Homo sapiens: one gene and its partners. The protein of the gene in region 1 purifies or fractionates together with the protein of each later gene. This does not show direct contact. Each region holds a gene or a part of one and is shown in the gene's direction. Other genes may lie near its edges.

What was found.
Region 2: the proteins of ATG7 (region 1) and PRKCD purify together in Homo sapiens (affinity purification with western blotting; 2 studies listed by BioGRID). This does not show direct contact.
Region 3: the proteins of ATG7 (region 1) and FOXO1 purify together in Homo sapiens (affinity purification with western blotting; 4 studies listed by BioGRID). This does not show direct contact.

What each region holds. Positions count from the first base shown.
Region 1 is NC_000003.12:11,268,377-11,275,404, forward strand, and holds the start of ATG7 (ubiquitin-like modifier-activating enzyme ATG7), read left to right. Parts: upstream 1-4,020; 5' UTR 4,021-4,054; exon of another isoform or gene 4,055-4,333; intron 4,334-5,837; exon of another isoform or gene 5,838-7,028. UniProt on the Homo sapiens protein: E1-like activating enzyme involved in the 2 ubiquitin-like systems required for cytoplasm to vacuole transport (Cvt) and autophagy.
Region 2 is NC_000003.12:53,156,353-53,164,220, forward strand, and holds the start of PRKCD (protein kinase C delta type), read left to right. Parts: upstream 1-4,856; 5' UTR 4,857-5,076; intron 5,077-5,154; exon of another isoform or gene 5,155-5,223; intron 5,224-6,129; exon of another isoform or gene 6,130-7,868.
Region 3 is NC_000013.11:40,663,630-40,671,434, reverse strand, and holds the start of FOXO1 (forkhead box protein O1), read left to right. Parts: upstream 1-4,793; 5' UTR 4,794-5,222; coding exon 5,223-5,852; intron 5,853-7,805. UniProt on the Homo sapiens protein: Transcription factor that is the main target of insulin signaling and regulates metabolic homeostasis in response to oxidative stress.

The sequences.
Region 1 (7,028 bases):
AGAGGCGGAGGTTGCAGTGAGCCGAGATCACGCCACTGCACTCCAGCCCAGTGACAGAGCAAGACTCTGTCTTGGAAAAAAAAAAAAAAAAGAAAGAAACCCCATTTGTATTAAAAAAAAAATACAAAAATTAGCCAGGCATGGTGGTGTGTTCTTGTAATCCCAGCTTCTAGGGAGGCTGAGGCAGGAGAATTGCTCACCATATTCTAGGAAGGCTGAGGCAGGAGAATTGCTTGAAACCAGGAGGCAGAGGTTGCAGTGAGCAGAGATGCGCCATTGCATTCCAGCCTGGGCAACAGAGTGAGACTCCATCTCAAAAAAAAAAAAAAAGAAAAAAGAAAAAAAGGGAGTAAAAGAATGGCTACTCCATAGGCAGTGTGTGGTGGCATGGGCTGCTCAATTGATTATGCTAATAGTTACTTCTTGATTATATGCTAAACAAGGGGTGGATTATTCATGAGTTTTCTGGGAAAGGGGTGGGCAATTCCTGGGACTGAGGGTTCCTCCCCTTTTCAGACTGCATAAGGCAACTTTCTGACATTGCCTTGGCATCTGTAAAAGGTCATGGCAATGGTGGGAGTGTCTTTTAGCATGCTAATGCATTATAATTAGCGTATAATAAGCAATGAGGATGACCAGAGGTCACTCTCGTCACCATTTTGGTTTTGGTGGGTTTTGGCACGTTTCTTTAGCACAACCTTTATCAGCAAGGTCTTTGTGACCTCTGTCATACCCTGATCTCCAGTTTTATCCTGTGAGTAAGAATGCCCAACCTCCTGGGAATGCAGCCCAATAGGTCTCAGCCTTACTTTACTCAGCCCCTATTCAAGATGGAGTCATTCTGGTTCAAATGCCTCTGACAGTAAAGGTTAAGAAATCCTTCTTGGCCAGGTGCAGTGGCTCACGCCTGTAATCGCAGCGCTTTGGGAAGCCGAGGTGAGCAGATCACCTGAGGTCAGGAGTTTGAGATCAGGCGGGCTAACATGGTAAAACTCCGTTTCTACTAAAAATACAAAAAATTAGCCGGGTGTGGTGGCATGCACCTGTAATCCCAGCTACTTGGGAGGCTGAGGCAGAAGAATCGCTTGAACCCGGGCGGTGGAGGTTGCAGTGAGCCAAGATTGCGCCATTGCACTCCAGCTTGGGCAACAAGAGTGAAACTCCATCTCAAAAAAATAAATAAATAAAAAAAAAAGGCTGGGCGTGGTGGCTCACACCTGTAATCTCAGCACTTTGGGAGGCTGAGGCGGGTGGATCATGAGGTCAGGAGATCGAGTCCATCCTGGCTAACATGGTGAAACCCTGTCTCTACTAAAAATACAAAAAATTAGCCGGGCGAGGTGGTGGGCGCCTATAGTCCCAGCTACTTGGGAGGCTGAGGCAGGAGAATGTCATGGACCTGGGAGGCGGAGCTTGCAGTGAGCCAAGATTGTGCCACTGCACTCCAGCCTGGGTGACAGAGCGAGACTCCGTCTCAAAAAAAAAAAAAAAAAGGAAAAAGAAATCCTTGCTGGGCAAGGTGGCTCACACTTGTATTCCCAGCACTTTGTGAGGTGAAGGTGGGAGGATCACTTGAGTCCAGTAGTTCAAGACCAGCCCTGGCAACATAGCAAGACCCAGTCTCTACAAAAAATGAGAAAATTAGCCCGGCATGATGGCATGCACCTGTAGTCCCAGCTACTCAGGAGGCTGAGGTGGGAGGATCCCTGGAGCTCAGGAGGTTGAGTCTGCAGTGAGCTATGATCACTCCACTGTACTCTATCCTGGGTAACAGAGGGAGACCCCGTCTCAAAAAAAAAAAAAAAAAAAGATAAAGCAAAAAAGAGAAATCTTTCTTAACCTTTTTGTGCTTCAGAAAATGTTCACTACAAAGAAATACCCATTCTCATGTCACTTAAATGACTCCTGGTTGCCTCCCTTGTTTACTGTGGCAAGGTCAAACACAGTCCTTCTGAATTCCCATTCTTTGCCTCATAAATGATTACAGAGCTGCTTGTCTCCATTGACCAGTTGGAAAAAATGCTTATTAACCAAACTTGGGTTAAGCTTCTTTCCTTTCCCCAGGCTCCTTACTTTAACCTACTCTCAGCTTGAACTAGCATACTGTCTCATGTGTCCGTGTGAAGAGACTACCAAACAGGCTTTGTGTGAGCAACAAGGCTGTTTATTTCACCTGGGTGCAGGTGGGCTGAGTCCAAAAAGAGAGTCAGCAAAGGGTGGTGGGATTATCATTGGTTCTTATAGGTTTTGGGATAGGCGGTGGAGTTAAAAGCAATGTTTTGGGGGTAGGGGGTGGATCTCACAAAGTACATTCTCAAGGGTGGTGAGAATTACAAAGAAACTTCTTAAGGGTGGGGGAGACTATAAAAGAACCTTCTTAAGGGTGGGGGAGATTACAAAGTACATTGATCAGTTAGGGTGGGGCAGAAACAAATCACAATGGTGGAATGTCATCAGTTAAGGCTATTTTCACTTCTGCGGATCTTCAGTTGCTGCAAGCCATCTGGATGTATACGTGCAGGTCACTGGGGATATGATGGCTTAGCTTGGGCTCAGAGACTGACACACACAACCCCTACTGAGAATAGGTTGGCCTCAAGATAAAACATTCTCTAATCTACTATCTGATCAAGCCACCCCTTCATCCCACTTCCCATATTCGGTTGTTTCCAGCCTTGTTTACCTGCCTTTGGGGAGGGTGGGGGGTGGGGGAACCCTCTTTTTCCCTAACCATTGAAACATCTGCGGATGTTTTGGTCAGAGTGATCTCACTATTGCAATAGTCTCCCTCTGCTATTGCACGGTTCCTTCTCTCCCACCTCTCTCACTTCTTGCAGTAATCCTTTCTTTTTTTTTTTTTTTGAGACGGAGTCTCGCTCTGTCGCCCAGGCTGGAGTGCAGTGGTGGGATCTCGGCTCACTGCAAGCTCCGCCTCCCGGGTTCACGCCATTCTCCTGCCTCAGCCTCCCAAGTAGCTGGGACTACAGGCGCCCGCCACCACGCCCGGCTAATTTTTTTGTATTTTTAGTAGAGACGGGGTTTCACCGTTTTAGCCGGGATGGTCTCGATCTCCTGACCTCGTGATCCGCCCGCCTCGGCCTCCCAAAGTGCTGTGATTACAGGCGTGAGCCACCGCGCCGGGCCTGCAGTAATCCTTTCTAATAAGTATCCTTATTAGTCTGGATTTGTTTTCTTATTTGCCAGAATCAAACAAACTTCAGATTACGTTCCTGGCCCAAAAGCCCTTTAACTTTCAGCAAGCCACCTAACTTTTCTTAGATTCTGTTCTTTCATATATAACTTGGGGATATGTTTCAGGACTCTTGTGAGGATTAGAGATGTAAAACCCTGAAAACATGGTGGCTAGTTAATTAATAGCAGTCATCGCTCTTGTTGTTATGAGTCTAGAGTGGTATATCAGAGTTAATTTGTGAAAGGCCTTACAGGCCAGACAGAGAAACTTGTCATAATCACTGCTGTATCTTCAACACCTGTCCAGTGCTTTGCACGCGCAGAGTATCTAACCAAGTATTGAGAGGGAATAACTTTATCTCACTGACAGTGAGGAGCTGTGAGAATGATGGCTGGTTTAGAAAAGGCAGGTTGGTCACTGTCGACGTTCACTGGCCTTTTCCTACTAAAATTCTCATCTCCTGGCTCTCCACACCTGCCACCCTGATGGCCCCTGTGCTGCGTTTGATGCCGCCTCTCCTGGAGAATGACCATGGTGATCATTCCTGTCATCCTCTGAAATCAAAAGAGAGAACGTGGGCACTTTCTTAAAAGCCTGAAGGGAATGTAGACATTCCGACATCTGGTAAGGGAGACGCTCTCCATCGCTTCCCCCGGGGGCGTCACCGCCCCCTGATGCCCCGCCCTCCTCACGACTCAAGTTCCTCCCACTTAGCTCGGTGCTAGGGGCGCATTTCCCCGGCATGCCTCTGCTCCTTTGCGCACGCGCGCCGCTTCCCAGTGGCAAGCGCGGGCAGGACCGCGTTGCGTCATCGGGGCGCGCGCCTCAGAGAGAGCTGTGGTTGCCGGAAGTTGAGCGGCGGTAAGTGAGCCGCGGCGGGCGAGGGTGTAGTGGGGTCTTGCTGGGCCGGTTTTGGAGGCCTGGAGTCAAGGGGCGAGCTCGCCAGGGAGGGCGAGGGTCACAGCAAGTCTCAGGATCCTCCTCTGCCAGTTTCTGGGTGGTCCTTCCTCCTCCAGGGACTCACTGATTCCGGCTGGCGCCCTTCGTCTGTAGCCGCGTCCCCTCAGACTGGTTCAGTCCGGGGTCTTCTGACTTGGAAGCTCGTGCTGATTTCCTAAGTCAGCCCCTCCTGTCCTCTTGGTAGGCAGTGCTCAGAATCTTCAGTGTTGGAACACGGGAGATGGGACATTTGGATTCCCAGCCTGGCTGTGTCTGGATTTGCTGTCTCTGGCACGTTCCTTCCCCATCTAAGCTGCTTTTCCATCTGCAAAATGGGAATGATAATCCGCCATTTGTTTAAGTGAGGAGGTTAAATAAGTTTACTTTCTGAGAAAGAAGATTCTCGATTCCTTGGTTACAGGGTTAGAAACTAATGCACAATAAGAATCAATCCGGTAAGGTAAATATAGGTGTTAGAACATTTGTCAGAAATAGAGTCAAACTTCTAATTTTATAAGTACAGTACTAACGTACATGATGTTGGAGAAGTACAAGCCAAACCGTGTGTGTGTGCACGTGCGTGCAGTTTCCTGATTTTTAAACACTGGCGACTGATGCCATTTTTTAAAAATTGGCAAGTAATTCTGGCGTTTAAAAACATTGGCAACTCAGTTTTTACAAAACCCTGTTCAACTGTAACCAGTCATATCTGTGGCTGTCAGTTTGGGACCTCTGGATCCCAGACTCCCTTTTTCATTGACTACTTAGATTTTTTTCTCTGACACCTCTGCCCACTGGCCAGATTTCTTCAGTGACAGAAAGCTTTCTACTTCTGGTTGCTCCTGTTTGGTCCTCCCCCAGTTCTGACTCTTAGGTTGAGCTGAAAGCAGCTACTCGGTAATCTTAGCTCACTGTTCCTCCTTCAGGCTCTTGGAATCACCCCTGCATTTAATTGCCCTATACATCATTGAAAGCTGCTAGTTTGTCTTCCTCTTCTCACCTTTTCTTCTCTAGGCTAAGCATATTTAATGTATTTGCTCATAGTAAACTTAACAGTGACAGCAAATTTTGTCATGTTTTGTTATATCCCCAGCATATAGAGCAATGCCTAGCATATTATATATGCTCAATAAATATTTGTTGGATGAATGAATAAAACAAATATTTGCCTGTTATGTGCCTGGCATTATTGTGGGCACTGGTGATCTATCAGTAAAATAAGAAGAAAAAGAACCCTGTTTCATGGCACCTTCTAATAATAGTGGTGGTGGTGGCGGTGGCGGCATTGTCAGTAAGGGTTGGTAGGTGTTTCCGATTCTGAAACGTACAGGGTCATGGGATGGACAGTAATTGGGGGGAAGCATAAAAGCTAGCTAGTCAGGGATGGCTTCCCTGAGGAAGTGACCTAACACTTGAATAAAGAAAAGTCCAGTCTTGGAATGGCTCATGTTGCTAAACTGCTTTCCCATCCCCCAACGCTGCTCCAGTCTTGTTAAGCTGCTTGCAGGTGTGTGTCACCTATAGCCCTTTGCTTCTGCTGCTTCGAACATCTCCCCTTCCTCTTCCATTTATCTTGGCCAACTCCTTCCTGCCCTCATGTGACATGATTTTGAAATCCTTTAAGAGCTGAGTACTGGACTTTCCATTACTCAACCACAGGTTCCGTTTTTCGTTCCCAGCCAGCATCTCATTATAGAGAATAAACATTTATTGAGCTTCAGCTGTGTGTCTGGCACTGCGCTGCAAGCTGGGAATACAAAAATGAGTAAGATACACATCCCTGTCCTCAAAGAGTTTACTTTTTTTTTAAGCCAAGGAGATAGCAACGGTATGGCATGAAGCTATTGCGGAGGTTTGGTAGAGGAGGACTTAGGGTACGCATAAGTCAGGCTGACTCATCAGAGAAGGTTTCAGTGAGGAGGTGCTGCTTTAGCCAAGACCTGAAGGACGAACGAGATCTGACAGGTGAAGAGTGGTTCGAAGTGAGATGAGCAAAGGGCTAGAGGTGAGAATGCATGGCCTGCTTGTGGTTCACTGGAGTGCCAGTGTGGAGGTGTAGGATGAGAGGTGACTGGAAAGGTAAGCACTAGCCACATCGTGAAGGGCCCTGTGGACAATAGCATGTTACCCGCACATAGACTTTGGGATCCAAGATAGCTGCGTACCAATATTCCCATTGCCACTGAACTAGTTTTGTGACCCTGGGCAAGTCACTTCTTTCTAAGCTTCAGTTTCCTCATCTCTAAGAAGGGGAAATAAAAACTGTACGAGGTGATATGTTACTCACTTGACACTGGTAGATGATAAATACTCAATAAACAGTAGTCATTAATATTGCCAGGCCCAGAAGTTTGGACTCTAAAATGTGGGGGCGGGGGTGGAGAGCAGGACACTGAAGATTTTAAAACAGATGCGACATCCTCTCATCTGTTTTAAATTACCCAGGCAGCAATGTGGTGATTACACTGGACAGAAAAAGACAAGCAGGGGACCAGTTGGGTATAGTTGCAGTGATCCAGGTGACAGGATGAAGATCTGGATGAAGGCAGTGACAGTGGAGATGGAGAGGAGTGGGAGGAGTTGAGAGATTAAGGAGGTGGAATTTGCTGGACTTGGTAACTGATAGGATGAAACAGAAGAAGGGGACAAGAATCAGGATCCTGATGACGGGAGGGCAGAAATGAATTTGCTGTGTGGAATTGAGCAGTAACAAAATTCTTTGACTAGTGTCTCTAATAGATTAACCCTGACCTCTGATTTTATTTGGAATTCAGTTTGCCTCTGTCGTCCACTTCTACCCATGGAAATGACGTTCGCTAATGTCTTCCTCTCCTCTTTTTTTTTTTTTCTTTTTTTTTGAGATGGAGTCTCACTCTGTCGCCCAGGCTGGAGTGCA
Region 2 (7,868 bases), about 42 Mb from region 1:
GGTCTTCTCAGAGGTTCCCACTAGGAGGCCGGCTGCAGTGCCCTGGACGACCCTCACACCCAGGACCTCAGTTGCTCCATCCAAGGAATGGGCGAGCTCAGGTCTTCCTGACTTTCCTGGAGAACAAAGAGGGTGAGGAGGCGAAAGGGCCTCCCGGCGCCTGGAGCCAGGTGGCTGCCGGACCCGGGAATAGAGCCGGGTGTTTTATAGCGGGGTTTGCGTCACGCGGCTGGGCGGGCGTCTGCGCCCCCGGCTCGGAAAGGCTTCCCTGAGGCGGGGCGGGGCGGGGCGGGGCGGGAGGGTGGGGCCCGGGGGACTTTGTGCTGGTGCACGGGGGTCGCGCCGACTGGCGTGTACGTGGTTGTGCGGTGGGTATGGAGGTGTGTGCACGGCGCGGGGGACCCTGCTGTGCCTGCAGTCAGTCCTTCCCAGCCTGCCAACCTCGAGCAGCCGCCTTTCAGCTCAGGGCCACCCCCTACACTGTTTCCCATGGGCCAAGCTGGGTTTGGTGAGCTGTCCTCTGAGGATGTGGGGGATGAGGGGCTGAGAGGTGGGAGCGGGGAGCTGAGGCACCCTCAGGCCAGGGAGCGAAAGGAAAGGCAGGTGAGGCTTATAGCCCTCCCTGCCCTGCTAAGCCCCATGAGCCTCCCAGTAGGGACCCCGTAGATTAGAGCTAAATGGGTGCCGGGGATGGGGGCGGTGGAGGAGAGCTGGGAGGTCCCCTGGACTCCGTGCGAGGGGATAGCTCTTGCTGATGACTGTCCCAACACCAGTGCCCCTTCTCCCCACCTACACACATGTTTGGGGGCAGGGGCAGAGGAGCCAGGGAAGGGGACTCAGGCTGGCAGGGGCTGTGCCATGGTCAGTGCAGAGAAGGGACAGTCCAGGGTACACACCCCTGGGAGAGCCACAGGAAAGCCCTGTGTTCTGCACTCCCAGGACACACCTTCCCCTTGTCTACCCCCAAGTATGTCTCAGGTTTCACCCAAACACAAATGTGTTGAGGAAGGAACATGGAGGCAATTAGCCCAGCCTCACCAACTCTCTGCCTGGCAGGTAACACCAACATGGGATGAACTTGAACTCTTCCATCCTCTCAGCCTCAGGAGGTCGATCTTAACCAAACACCACTCCACAGATGAGGAAGCTGAGGCACATTTAAGTTGCAGTGCAGGGCAGAGCCAGGATGCGAACCAGCCCCTGGGCTGGCACTTCCCTGCTGTGCAGCACTACCCACAAGGCCACTGTCCCCCTCAGCCTGTCCTTGCTTGTCCTTAACCTAGTACCTGAGGCTGACACTCCTGTCGATGACAGTCTTGGTGGCCTGAGGCATGGGCATGTCCCAAGTGTCCTTCCTACTACACTGTCCCCAGTGGGAACCTCCCAGGCTCTGCTGCCCCCAGCAATTGCCCAGGTGCACTGTCGCTGTTGACTGTGTCTCCTGCTCCAGAAACACAAGCCCACTCTCTCTTGGCCAGGCCAGTGCTCTGGGTGTGATGGGGATTGCCGTGGCAACCAAAGCTTCAGGGACAAGGATGGTGACACAGAGAGACAGAAACAGAGAGAAGGTGCAAAAAGCAGAAATGCCAGGACAAGGACCAACTCTTGGCAGGGATCAAGTGAGGGACCCCATTTGCCTTCAGCTGTGTGGGCCTCAGGGACAGAGGGAGGCCTTTTCCAGGTTGCTTGGCCGAGTCTTGGACTTCAGGAGTGGAGGAGTCTGGAGGCCTCCCAGGGTTGATGGCCTTTGGAGGAGGCAGAGGTGGCAGGGGTCAAGTTGCTTCTCCTCTGGATAAATCCTCCAGGAGGCCCACAGAAGGAACAGCCCTGGGTGGATGCTGTGGGTGGGAGTCTGGAAGCTGCCTGGCACCACCCTAGCCCATCTCCTTGGCTGCAAACCTGGAGGAGGAGGAAAGTATCACCTCTAGGCAGCTGCTATGAGTCTAGCCCTGCTCAGGGATTTACGCCCCATGTCAGGAGAGGCCATTGAAGCCTCTTTCAAGGCTGACAGCCTGTGACTTGGCACATGACCAGGCTGTAACCCTGGGCAATGTGTCTAGCCTGGCCGAGGCTCTGTATATATCATCTCATTTAACTCTTACCACCTCATTCAACTCCTGACATGAGTCTGTCATCAGCCCTTTTCATAGGTGAGAACTCTGAAGCTGGGAGAGGCATGGTCACCTACTCAGGGTCATACAGTTGGCATGTGACACAGCCAAGGTTTGCTCTCAGGCTTCAGCAGGCCCTTCTTGTTGATGCAAGGCAGATTATGGGGACACAGATACCAGCTCATCTGGACCCTGCCCTGGCCCACCAGTGTGGCACCCAGAAGCAGCTCCAAGATGCAGGGTGGTTCTAGTCAAGCTTGGCCTGGATTCTCTGGACCTCATGCAAACCTATTCTCCCTGGAACCCTTGGACCTAAGGCCTGGAGGGAAGCCCACCTTCATCCCTTCTCTGCCCTCGCCACAGCATAGCTAGCACAGCCTTAGCCCCTCTGACCCTCTCTGAGTACATCGCACTTCCCCTTTCTCTAGAGGAGAAAGATTGGCTGAAGCCAGTGTATGCTTGCAGCCCCTGAGCTCACAAGTCTGCATATCCTGAGGATCAGGAAAGTGCTTCCTGTTGTCTAATGTAAATCTTGTTCCTGTAACACCAGTATATGTCAAAGCAGTGATTCTCAACAAGGGGTAATTTTGCCCTGCAGCAGACATTTGGCAATGTTTGGAGACATTTTTGTCTGTCACAAGTTAAAGCAGGGAGGTACTATTGGCATCCACTAGGCAGAGGCCAGGGATGCTGCTCAACATCCTTACAGTGCACAGGGCAGCCCCCACAGCAAAGAATCATCTGTCCCAAAGGTCAGTGGTGCTGAAATTGAGATCCCTGATGTAAACTATGGGCTTTGGAGCCAGACAGACCTCGGTCTGAATCTGCGTCTGCCACTGACTAGCTGTGTACTCTGGGGCAAGTCGCTTCTCCTTTCTCTGAGCCTCAGTTTGCTCATCACCAAAACTGGCACTAACAGCAGCCCTCACCTCTTGAGAACTGTTCAGACTGCCCACATCCAGCACCCAGCACACAGCCTGGTGCTGGGTAGCCCCTATCAGCGATAGCCATGATTATTCATTTCCTTCTTCCATGGTGAACCACACGGAGTGGGAACAAAGGTCTGGTGGCTGGACCTGGAGCTCCTCAAGGGTCAGTCCTCCCTCTGGCTGCAGTCCCTGGCACAGGGTGGGCCTATTGTTTATGTTGAGGGAGAGACTGGGTTGGCTTACTGTGGACCTGAAGGAGGAGCCAGAAGGAAACCCGATCCCAAGTGGGCAAAGGTCACTTGAGGCTCACCTTGTTTACCCTTTCCTCCAGTCCAACCCCAGGGAAGCCATGGGGCATGATGGGTGGGGTGGGATGGGATCAGGACACAGAACATGCTAATGAATATGGTCCTTCACTCAGGGAAGTGCCGTGCATTACAACTGGGCATCAGGGAGGAGGGACATTTGAATGGACACAACCAGGGCAGGTAGAGGTTTGGGGGTGGGGTGGGAAATGGCATTCAGGCCCAGAGAACAGCATGCTCAAGGCCTGGGTGTGAAGAGAAAGTCTTTCCCAAAGGATAGTCCTTGAACCCACCTGGTCTGGCCTTTTCTCCCCATCCATCTTCCGCAATCTCAACCAGGGTCCTCCCACCTGAACAACGTGGCAGCCCTTCTGTCCCCCATCCAGCCTCTCCTCTGCCCTGCTGTCCCTCTGCCCCATCTATCCCGCAGGAGCCCCCTTGAGCCTGTCATCCTGCCTGGTTGTAATAGCTTTCACCACCTTCTCATTGCTCTGTGAGAAGACCAAAGTCCAATGGCCTGTCTCTGTCACAAGCCCCTTTCTCAGCTCAGGCCACCTCAGGGATTGTCCCCCACTTCCATCCCTTGTGTCTCAGCTGGGAAGAGCTGTCTAGACTTTCTCTATCCCTTCTAGGTGGTTCCCCAGGACCTGGAACCCTCTTTTTTGTCTCCTGGGAAGTGACATTTCTTTGGATGAGTATAAGGCTAATGTCTTGGCTTTCTGAGCTCTGGGGACAGGGGAATGGACTCCCTAGAACCCCAACTGGTCCCTAGACTTTGAGCCTAGGGGACACTCGGTGAATAGATGAATGAGTGAATGAATGAATGAAGGAGTTATGGCTGACAACCAAGTTCCATGTCTGGAAAGGAGGCTCAGGCGCCTGCCAGGAGCAATAGAGAGGTCTCAAAGGTGGGGGCAGGAAAGCAGAAGACTGCCAATCGGGGTAGGGGCAACTGCCAGTCCGAGTAGGGGCAGTTCCCAGAACCGCCTGAGGAGCAGTGCAGCGCCCGACCAGCGAGAACCTCCGACCCTGGAGTCTAACCAGCTCAGTCTTTGGGGCAGAGCCGGGACAGCGGGCTTGGCGGCGGGCACCGCGCCCGGCCGCGTCCGAGCTCCAGCCAACAGGAAGAGCAGGAGTGGGGCCAGGAGAGGCGGGCCAGCTGGCCAGTGGGGAGTCCCGGGCGTGGGTGTGGGGAGCGGGGGAACCCCCGCCGGCCCCTCCCAGGCCCCAGCGGGCGGAGGGAGCCTCCCCACCGGGCCTCAGCGTCCTCCTCTGTAAAATGGGCCCCTTCTGAGGGCTGGCTGCGCGCTAATGGCGGGAGGATGCGAAGAGGGCCAGGCAGGGCAGAGGGACCGGGAGACTCGGTGTCCCGCGCAGGCAGAGGCGGAGGGACGCTGTCCCCGATTGCAGCTGGCGGGGCGAGGCCTGGCAGGGCGAGGCCTGGCGGGGGCGGGGCCTGGCGGGGGCGGGGCCGGCGGCACCTGGGTGAGGTCGCTCGGCCCCGCCCCCTCGCACTTCCGTGTGCCGCGGCGCCGGAGCCCGAGGCGGCTGTAGCCCACATCTCCCGAGCGACCCCCGGCGCCCGCCCGCCGCGCGGAGGCCCGGGCCACACCTCACTGGCCGCTTGGCCCATCCCAGTCAGCGCCGCGCCGAACCCCGTCCGCGCGCGCCGGGGAGCGGCGCCCCCGCCGCTGCCGCCGCGACCCTTGGCGCCTGCCCCTGCAACGGGAGGTAAGTGAGGGCCGGGTCCGGGCGCGGGATCGGGGCTACCCCGAGGGCGCGGCGCCCTTCCTTCCCCCTTCCCGCCCCAGTTCCCGTTTCCGAAACTGAGAAACTGAGCCGCGGTCAGCGAAAGTCCCGCCGCGCCGAGACCTGCCGGTGACTCCGTCCCCCTGTCCGTCTGTGTGTCCCTCCGCTAGACAGTGGGGGCTGAGGTCCTTCTGTCTGCCCGCTCCCGGCCCCTCCACCCGCCCGTGTGTCTCCCGCTCCTCCGAGGGGCCCGTCCGTCCCTCCCGACTCTCTCCCGGGCCCTGTGTCCGTCCGTCTGTCGCCACCCACTCTGTGTTCTCCCCCTGCGCGCCTCTCCGAGACCCGATCCTTCTGTCCCTCGCCACCCGATCCGTCCGTCCCTTGCCCTCCGCGTGCTCCATCGCCCCACCCCCACCCACACCCCTACCCCCGCCCGCCGCCCCCTCGATCCCGTCCTCCCGGAGCCGCGCCCCCGGCCCACGCTCGCCGCCCCCTGCCAGTCCAGCCGCCTCTCCGCTCTACCGCGGGGCCCAGGCCAGGCCGCCCGCCGGGCCTCGCCTCCCGCCCCTGGGTCCCTGGAGGCCCGACCCGCGCGGCGCCTCCTCCTCGCTGTCTCTTCTTTCGGTCTCAAGAGTCTTTCTCGGTCCCTTCATCCGTCTCTGGGCTGGGCGTGGCTCCAGTCTCCACCATCCCCCTTCCCACCCCACCCCTCCGCCCCTCTGAGACCCCTCCCAGGGTGGCCCCTGCCCGATACGGTCTGTACTCGCCCCCAACCCAGATGCCACTCCCGTTGTGGGGGCTCCACCAGATGAGGGGAGGAGGTCGGGGGGGGGGGTCCTCCTGGCTGGTGGTGGAGCGGCAGAAGGAGAGCACCATCGGAACTGCTCCCACTTCCCCAGTTCCCTCTCTCTTGGGGCAGGGGAGAGCCCCACCGAGCCCCGCCTTAAACCTGGTCAGAAGGATCTGCTGTGAGTGGGCGGGGGGTCCCCTTCTCTGACGCCTACCCTGTATGCGTGGAAGCTGTCTCCTTGTGCTAAGTCACTGGTATCTGGGTGTGTGGGTATGTTGTGTGTCTGTGTCAGCTTCTGTGCTGTCTGTCACTGTGGGACTTGCCTGTGCATGTGTGTCCTTTTTCGCATGTGTGACTTGCTTGTGTGTATGTGTGTATGTCTGTTTGTGTCCTGAGGCTCTGTGTGTGTCTTTTGCAACTGTGTGTACCATTCTTGGTGTGTTTGTTGTCACCAGACTCGTGTGTGTGTGTGTGTGTGTGTGTGTCCTTGCCTGCTAGTGTGTGTGTCCCTGTGTGTCTGGAGGTTTCGGTGTTGCACACTGGGTATATCATGGTGACCAACTGGCCATGAGTACGTTAGATCTGTTAATTGTGGAAGCCCCTGGTGTTGGGTGCCTACCCACCAGTCTCATGTGTGAGTGTATCTGTATAAGTGTGTGTATGTGTGTGTACTCACGTGTGGCTCTCCCTCTGCCACTGAGTTTCTGTGACCAGGCCCACCTGGTCACTAAGGGAGGGGACTGATCCCTGGGGTTTCCTCGTTCCTGCTGTGGAGTGAGCTGGGGCTTGGTGAGCAGGCCAGCAGAGGGAGGCTGTATGGTGCATGTGTGATATGTGTGGTTGTGTGTGTGCGTGTGTGTGTGACAGAGAGGTGTGGTGGTGTCTGGGCAGCTGTACCTGGCTGATGGGTGGTGTGAGGGCTATGCGATGGGACAGTGCTGGGGTAAGCCTGGGAGTGTGTGGCCACGGTAGGAGTGTGTGACTGGTGGGACACAGTCTATGAAACTGCCGGTGTATGCTTGGGGAGTGACTGTGATTGTGGGGAACCGAGAGTGCCTGGGCGTGGGTGTTAGCGGCAGGAGGGGGTGTGACAAGGTGTGTGGTGACAGTGCTGGGAGGGAAGGTGAGAGCCCAGTGTGGGGGTGTGTGTGTGAGTGTGTGGGAGACCATGAGGATGTGGGTGTGCACATGGAGAGGGCTAGAGGGCAAGTCTTGGGGTTTGTAGTGTTGTGACCAAGACCTCGGGCTCTGTACCCAAGAATTATTTGGGCTCCAATACTTGCTTGTGCCTGTTAAGAGCAAGAGACCCAAGCTAGGCCTCTCAAGGCTGAGTGTCCTTATCTGCAGAATGGAGAGAGTGAGGACAAAAGTTCCTGTGTTAAAGGTCCTTTAACACAATCTTGGCCCATAGTGAGAACACAGCACATGTGAAGTCTTTTGTTGTCACCACCCCCAGCTATACGGTTCCCATTCTCCTGGGAGCTGGGGCTAAAGAAAGCCCAGACAGTATCCAACCCAATTTCCTGCCTGTCTGTTGCCCCTTCCCATCTCCTTGACCAAGCAGCTTGAGGGAGGGGGGATGCCCAGACAGAGCCCCCAGTACCCAGCCCTGTTCAGCCTGCATGACAGCCCCTCCCTCACCAGACCTTAGTGTCAGTAGTAGCGATGGGGGAGACAGGGGTGGGGGATGATTCAGAGCTGTGACTGCAGGGCGCTGACACCATTTAGCTGGCACAGTTTAGATTAAAATTAGAAATAATTTAAAGTACAGACAAAAAGATAAAGCCAAGGATGCCTCTGCCCCCAGGGAATGGTGATGGGGGTCTCCAGCTGGGGGAGGGGTTCACATCTGGGGAGCAGAATCTTTCTTAGAGGCTTGAGCTGGCCTTCAGAGAAAATGCTTAGGCCTTTCAGCCAGGAGACACAGAGTACCTTGCTACCTTTGCCATTTCTTCCTCCCAGGATATCTCCAGGCCTCAGTTTT
Region 3 (7,805 bases), on another chromosome or scaffold:
GCCCTTCACAACAGAATTGACAAAAGAAGTGGTTCACTGCTTCCCTTCTGTTACAGGTTAGTAGACAGATAACCAGAGGTAGTCTCCGTCTTTTGTCCATTTGTAATAAGATCATCCCAACCATGAGGCTTAGTGGTCGGAACTCATACTCCCAGTGCCTGTGGATGGTGCATTTTTAAATCTTTTCCACTTCATATCATTATTTTCCTCCAAAATGGTGACTATATTTCAATTTTTCCAGCCTTAGCATTTCTTTTACCTATCAAAAACATTTTTGTGTAATTCCTCCAAATAAATATTGTCACTATGCATTGCTGATTAGAAAAGAACAGCGTTCTTAACTCTGATAGCAAATATCGTATCAGGGAAAATAAACCATTTTGGAGCTCAAGGAATTTAGCATCAAAACAATGGACTCTAAGATGCACAGCACCTGACATATATGTAGGAGGTGCTCTGTAGATATTTGTGGAATTAGTGACAAAACCCCAAGGAAATTATCCCTTAAGAGAAACGAATGGTTACTTCTAATCTTACTACAGCTACCAGTTAATATGCCAGCCTTCAGGACATTGGTTTAAAGACCTGAGGCTATATATATTTTTTTCAGATTATTACTTTCTATGGGCTAAGTGAAGAAAGGCTGTTTCAGGTTGACAGCAGTACCTCCTAATAATTCAGACAAAGTTTTGGAAACGGACAGTTGTTGGGGAAAGGGAATGTGAAATACGAAGTGAAGTGCCCTGACTGAAAAATCAGCATCCAAGTTTTTCACTTACTCATTAAATGGAACTTAAATTATCTATTTTGACAAGTAAAAATTTAAATTTAAACCCGAGATCTATCATGTGTTGGTGAGGGGTAAATGTAGAAATTTCTGCCTGGGCATTGATCAAAGGGAACCATCCCTCAGTCTTCCTGTTAAGGATGAGGCAATAGTTACCCTGAAAACCAGGCACAGAAAAGAACATCACATAGTTTTGTGAGATGGACTTTGTAAGGATAAATTTCCTTTTTCATTTTAATTGTCCTTACTTGACATGAGACATTTTTCTTCCCTATTTCTTCCCAGTTCAGACACATGCAGCAACTAAGTGATAATCAGTAGAAAATACCTTCAAAGCAAGCTGCAACCACAAAACACAAGGAAGGAGAAAAGAACTTTTTCCCTTAAGCAGAACCAGGGATGACCTAAATACTATGTCACCCTTCAGAGATGGCAACATTTACATTTTTGACTAAAAAAAAAACAAAAAAAAAAAACAGAAAAACTTCTTTTGTAATCTCTTCTTTCATTATCTTATTACCACTATCATTGTTTTATGTCTGTTTTCTTGATCTTTTATTTTATTTTATTTTTTTTTAATTTTTAAATTTTTTTGAGATACAGTCTCATTCTGTCGCCTAGGCTGGAGCAGTGGTGTGATCTCGACTCACTGAAACCTCCACCTCCGGGGTACAAGGGATTCTTCTGCCTCAGCCTCCTGAGTAGCTGGGATTACAGGCACCTGCTACCACGCCCAGCTAATTTTTGTATTTTTAGTAGAGATGGGGTTTCACCATGTTGGCCAGGCTGGTCTGGAACTCCTGACCCCAGGTGATCCACCTGCCTCGGCCTCCCAAGCTGTTGGAGTTACAGGCATGAGCCACTGTGCCCGGCCTATTTGTTCTTTTAATTCAAACCTTTATTTGGTTCAGTGGAGTTCACCTAACTATGATTACTAAGATCTGCGGGTTGACTGGAAGGAAATACACTACGAAGTTATAATGGTTATTGCTATAGTGGGATTACAGGATATTTATAATTTTCCATCTGTGTTTTGAGAAGGTTACTAATGGGAAAGCAAAAAATTAGAGCTACAGCCCTGGCATCACCACTTTTATTATGTGCGCTGGGGCAAATCAGCATCTCTGCACCTCTCTTTTTCTAAGTTAAAGGGGGTCACCAAGGTGATCTCCGAGTTTACTTTCAAGTTTAACGTTCTGTGGGTCTAATGGAAAAGACAGTTTAGCTTGATATAACCCTTGTGGAGCACAATTTGGCTGTGCCTTTCAAAACTACGAATGGGTATACCTGCTGACCCAGTGACTCCCATTTCTGGAAATTGCTCCTATATATATACTTGTACAGATATGAAATTAAAGTTATGCAAGGTTATTTCTTTTTTTTTTTTCTTTTGAGACGGAGTCTCGCTCTGTTGCTCAGGCTGGAGTGCAGTGGGGCGATCTTGGCTCCGCTTCCCGGGTTCACGCCATTCTCCTGCCTCAGCCTCCTGAGTAGCTGGGACTACAGGCGACCGCCACCACGCCCGGCTAATTTTTTGTATTTTTAGTAGAGACGGGTTTCACCGTGTTAGCCAGGATGGTCTCTATCTCCTGACCTCATGATCCGCCCGCCTCGGCCTCCCTGCAAGGTTATTTCTTACAGAATAGTCTATGATAGCTAAAGACTGGAAACAAGTGAAATATTCACCAACATCCTGGGGTTCAGTAAATTGATATTTAGATACAACAGTGTGGTGGTTAGCTGTAAAAACCCTTCAATATATATTTTTAATTTTTTGGACCTATGTGTCAGGGACATTGGTGTTATAGGTTCTCTGTGCCTGCCTCGTCAATTTTTTTAAAGAAAGACCAAATAAAAGTAAACTATGACATTTGAAGAAACAATTGGGCAGGAGAGCCTCAAAGATTTCAAGGATTTGGGGAAAGTCTGTAGGAAGACTCCTTTAACCAAATAAATATTCTCTGACGCCCTGAAAAACCGGAATAGAAATGAAGGCAAGGCCAAATTTGAAGCTGGCTTCCTTTGCCAAGAATGATCCAGTAGGGCACCGCCTATTTTTAGGGTGCGGCTGTCTGGATCGGGGGCTGCTTCTGCAGAGTGTAATTGGAAAGGTGGGGGGAAGCAACAGCTGTACTTTGGGGGCCTGCCTTTGAGCTCATCATCTGAGTTACTGAGGTCCCCTAGCGGCTGTCAGAGGAGGCCCAGACTGTCCAAATTTGATAGTAAACGTGAAGAGACCACAAGACCAGGGTGGGAACCAGTCCCCGCCCGTCCCCAATCCATCCGGCTCACGCTCCCCACCCCACCCATGCCTAGTATCAGCAAGAAGCTGTTGTGATAAATAGATTATGAAGAAACAGGAGCCCGGACTAGAGAGACGATAGTGAGAATATAAAAGAAGAAAGATAATCTCTCTCAATCTTTTTAACTTTTGTAAGAGGCCTAATTTTTCCTTTTTTCCCCTCTTTTCTCTTTTATTTTTTCAACAACCTCTTGTCCAACTGACTAATTTTCTCTAGATGCCACTTTTTCCATTGCAGAATTACTTGTAAGAAAGAAAGGGATTAAAAAACAAGAGTTGGAAGCTGTCCTTTTGGACAAGATATTTAAAACCCTACTGTCCATCTTCCATCCTAAGTGGTCCCATCTTTCTAAAAGGAAATGCCTTCCATATTCTTCCTAAAAAAGCAAAAGCATAACAAAACAAAACTGGAAAACTGTTTCTTCTGCTTGAGACACAAGGGCCATTATCTTCCCACCTTTGGCCCCACTGATCCTTGACAGGATGTCCTGGACCTGCAGCCCAGATGAGGAAAGGTGGGGTGTGGGTGGGGGGTTGACTGACACACACAGCAAGTAGCCTCAAGGAATTTGGGGGTGGGGCAGGCTGCGCCCCAAGGCTTTGGTCCTATCTCCCGCCCCCCTTGCGTTTTTACTTAACACCCGATCACTTCCGTTGCAAATAAAAAAGAAGTAACAAACAGCTAAATTTAATTAGGGATAAGTAATAAAATGACCTGGTTCTCTCTAACTGCGCTCCTGAGCCCTTCGCTGCCGGCCCTGGACTTAGTGGACGGAGCGGGAGATTCCCGCCCAGGGGAAGAGGTTCCCACGGAGGGCATGCGGTCGCGGGTGCCTTTGGATTCGTGTGTTCAGGGAGGCCAGATAATCTCCTCCCCGCGCCGGAGCCCCTGTTCCTCATTTCTAGCATTTTAAAAAAGGTCAAGAATACAGTGAATCCGGCTGGGGGCTGCCGGCTGGGTGACGCGCCTCTGGCTAGACCGAATGGCACAGGCTGAGCCCGGGGGTGCGGACCGGTGGGCACGGAGAAGGGTCCCTCGGCGCGGACTCGACTGCAGGAGCCGCGGCGCCGGGGGTGGGGGGCGTGTGCCGCTCGCGAGGGGGCCGGAGGACTTGACAGATCGCAGCGAAAGAAAACATTAAACCAAAACAAAACCCACCGATTCCCCACGTCGTTCAGCAAAGACATCGTGGGTGGAGCCAGGAGGGAGCGATTGAGTAGAATTCCTCGCGGCCGCCTCCGCCCGCCCACCCCGCGCCCCCGGCCCTCGGCCCCCTGCCCTGCCAGCCCGCCGGGCTCGGCCCGCAGCGGAGGTCAGGGAGCAGCGAGCGCCTCCTCCCACCCGGGCTTCCCGAGTACTCGGCTCTGCTGCTCCGTAGTAAACAAAGTGTCGCCGGCGCCTCCACGCTGGTTTGCTTCCTAGCAATCAAAACACTGAGAAGGCGAGAGAATCACAGAAACACTCGAGAATTACCAGAAAATAATAGAGATCCAAAAAAAAAAAAAGGAGGTGAGTGTGTGAAAGAGAAAAACACCCCACTACCCCCCACCAGCCCACCGCCGCCTCCCCGTGGAAAACCGGGCCCCACCCAGCCCGGCGCCCACTGGCTGCCCGGGCGGCGGTGCCGCATGCCCATTGGCCGCGCGGGCTGTCGGTCAGGGGCGGGCCGGCGCGCGCGCCGCCGCGGGCGGGGGGCGGCGGCAGATCCCGTAAGTCGGGCGGCCTGGTAGTCGCAGCAGCCGCTGCCGCAGCCGCCACATTCAACAGGCAGCAGCGCAGCGGGCGCGCCGCTGGGGAGAGCAAGCGGCCCGCGGCGTCCGTCCGTCCTTCCGTCCGCGGCCCTGTCAGCTGGAGCGCGGCGCAGGCTCTGCCCCGGCCCGGCGGCTCTGGCCGGCCGTCCAGTCCGTGCGGCGGACCCCGAGGAGCCTCGATGTGGATGGCCCCGCGAAGTTAAGTTCTGGGCTCGCGCTTCCACTCCGCCGCGCCTTCCTCCCAGTTTCCGTCCGCTCGCCGCACCGGCTTCGTTCCCCCAAATCTCGGACCGTCCCTTCGCGCCCCCTCCCCGTCCGCCCCCAGTGCTGCGTTCTCCCCCTCTTGGCTCTCCTGCGGCTGGGGGAGGGGCGGGGGTCACCATGGCCGAGGCGCCTCAGGTGGTGGAGATCGACCCGGACTTCGAGCCGCTGCCCCGGCCGCGCTCGTGCACCTGGCCGCTGCCCAGGCCGGAGTTTAGCCAGTCCAACTCGGCCACCTCCAGCCCGGCGCCGTCGGGCAGCGCGGCTGCCAACCCCGACGCCGCGGCGGGCCTGCCCTCGGCCTCGGCTGCCGCTGTCAGCGCCGACTTCATGAGCAACCTGAGCTTGCTGGAGGAGAGCGAGGACTTCCCGCAGGCGCCCGGCTCCGTGGCGGCGGCGGTGGCGGCGGCGGCCGCCGCGGCCGCCACCGGGGGGCTGTGCGGGGACTTCCAGGGCCCGGAGGCGGGCTGCCTGCACCCAGCGCCACCGCAGCCCCCGCCGCCCGGGCCGCTGTCGCAGCACCCGCCGGTGCCCCCCGCCGCCGCTGGGCCGCTCGCGGGGCAGCCGCGCAAGAGCAGCTCGTCCCGCCGCAACGCGTGGGGCAACCTGTCCTACGCCGACCTCATCACCAAGGCCATCGAGAGCTCGGCGGAGAAGCGGCTCACGCTGTCGCAGATCTACGAGTGGATGGTCAAGAGCGTGCCCTACTTCAAGGATAAGGGTGACAGCAACAGCTCGGCGGGCTGGAAGGTGAGTGGACTCGGCGCGCGGCCGGACCTTGGGGGCGCGGTGGGTCAGGCGAGGGCGCAGCTGTGCAGGTTTGCTCGGCCTGAAGGTGCGGAGCAGGAGGGCAGCGCGTTCCCAGGAGGGCGGGCGAGAAGCGGTGGTCGCGGTGGCCTCGCCCGGGTCCGGTCGGGGACGGCAGTAGGTGTGCGTGCGCGCCAGTCAGGAGTTCGCGTGGGACGCGGTAAGGGGCTCGTTGGGGAACTAAGTAAAGAAAGTGCGCCAAGAAGTGGACGTCAGAGCGAGGCCGAAAAGTTTGCCAGTGAAAGGAGAAAGGGGTTCGCTGGGAGCGGCAACCCCCGGCCCGCGCCGACTGCTTCGGCTGCCCCTTCCCTCCCGGACCTCCGCGGGGGGAGGGCGGGTTCTCTCCGGCCGCGCCGCGGAGCTGTTTCCGCCGGGCGCGGCGGGGGAGGGCGCGGCGAGGGGCCCCGGAGCCTCGCTGCCCCGGGACCGGGCTGCAGGTGGAGGGGACAGGCAGGGCGCGACCGGCCGGGGACGGTGCAGGGCCTGCCGGGCAGTTTCTGGAGGCGGTGCGCATTTTGCTTTGTTTTGGTTTTCTCCGGAGTGGCCTCGAGTGCCGGGGGCCCGGCGTCCCGAGCCCGAGGTGGTGCCTCCGACACGTGCGAAGGGGCGGCCACCGCCTGCGGAGCGCCGGCGCCTGGCCGCGCGGGGCGAGCTAAAGTTCAAGTGTGACCCTCGGCGGGGGCGGGCGCGGGCGGTGGCGGTGGCGGTGGCGGTGGCGTGGGAGGGGCCCCGGGCGCAGGAAGCCCGCGCCTTTAAAGGGCCAGCGCGTCGGGGCCGGGCGCCGTGGGGCCAGCGTTTCTCCATGCGGGGAAGCGCCCGAACTTGGTCTTGCCCCTGGTAGGAGGCTTTTAGTTAGAAACACAGAGGCTGCCCTGAGGGGCCGGGGGCTGGGATGTGTGAGTCTTTTCCTGCCTTGCCACCCTATTCTTGAGCATGGAGGACCAGGCGGGGGGGCTTTGCGACCAATGTTTTGAGGGAGTCGGAGTGGCGGTGCGCGTCGAGGGAGCGGTGCCTTGAAGGAGGATTTTTGCCATTTTTGCCTTTCAGAGCGTGGCCAGGAGAGACTTAGCGTGGGGGCAGGCACTTCCCGACTCCGAGGAGAAGGCCCGGGGGCCCTCGGCTCCGGGGAGGCTTCCCGGGGGCGGGGTCCAGTCGTGGCGCGGCCTCCCCAAGCTGACAGTTTCTCACTGTCACCGGTGGCGGAATTGCTGTAAAGGCTGTCTAGTTGAGCTAAACACCTCCCTCCCCTCCTCCGAGACGGAGTCTCGCTCTGTCGCCAGGCTGGAGTACCGTGGCGCGATCTCGGCTCACTGCAACCTCCGACTCTCTGGTTCAAGCGATTCTCCTGTCTCAGCCTCCCGAGTAGCTGGGATTACAGGCACGAGCCACCACGTCGAGCTAATTTTTGTGTTTTTAGTAGAGACCGGGTTTCACCATGTTGGCCAGGATGTTCTGGATCTCCTGACCTCGTGATCGGCCCGCCTCGGCCTCCCAAAGTGCTGGGATTACAGGCGTGAGCCACCGTTCCCGGCCGAGCTAAACACCTTTTTAAAACATACCTTTCTTCGCCTCTCATATTGGACTCCACGGCATAATAAAGATTGGTCTTTGCTGCGCAGTTGTTAACACCAAGGTTATTTTACACACAGTGTCATCCCTGTGGTTAATGCGTGTCAAAAGGGTTAAGTTACTCACACCTTATTGAAGTTCCTTTAGAAGGAATTCAAGATTCATTTTATTTTTTCCAAAGTGTGTTTTAGAGTAAAGGTATCACTTATCGCTTCATTACCAGGCATTACATGCAATTTTACCAAGTGTTTCAAAAAAGTAAAGTGCCTTCTTACCGTTAAGTTCAGCATATATTCTATTAAGTCACAAAATCGAAATTGTCTGCCA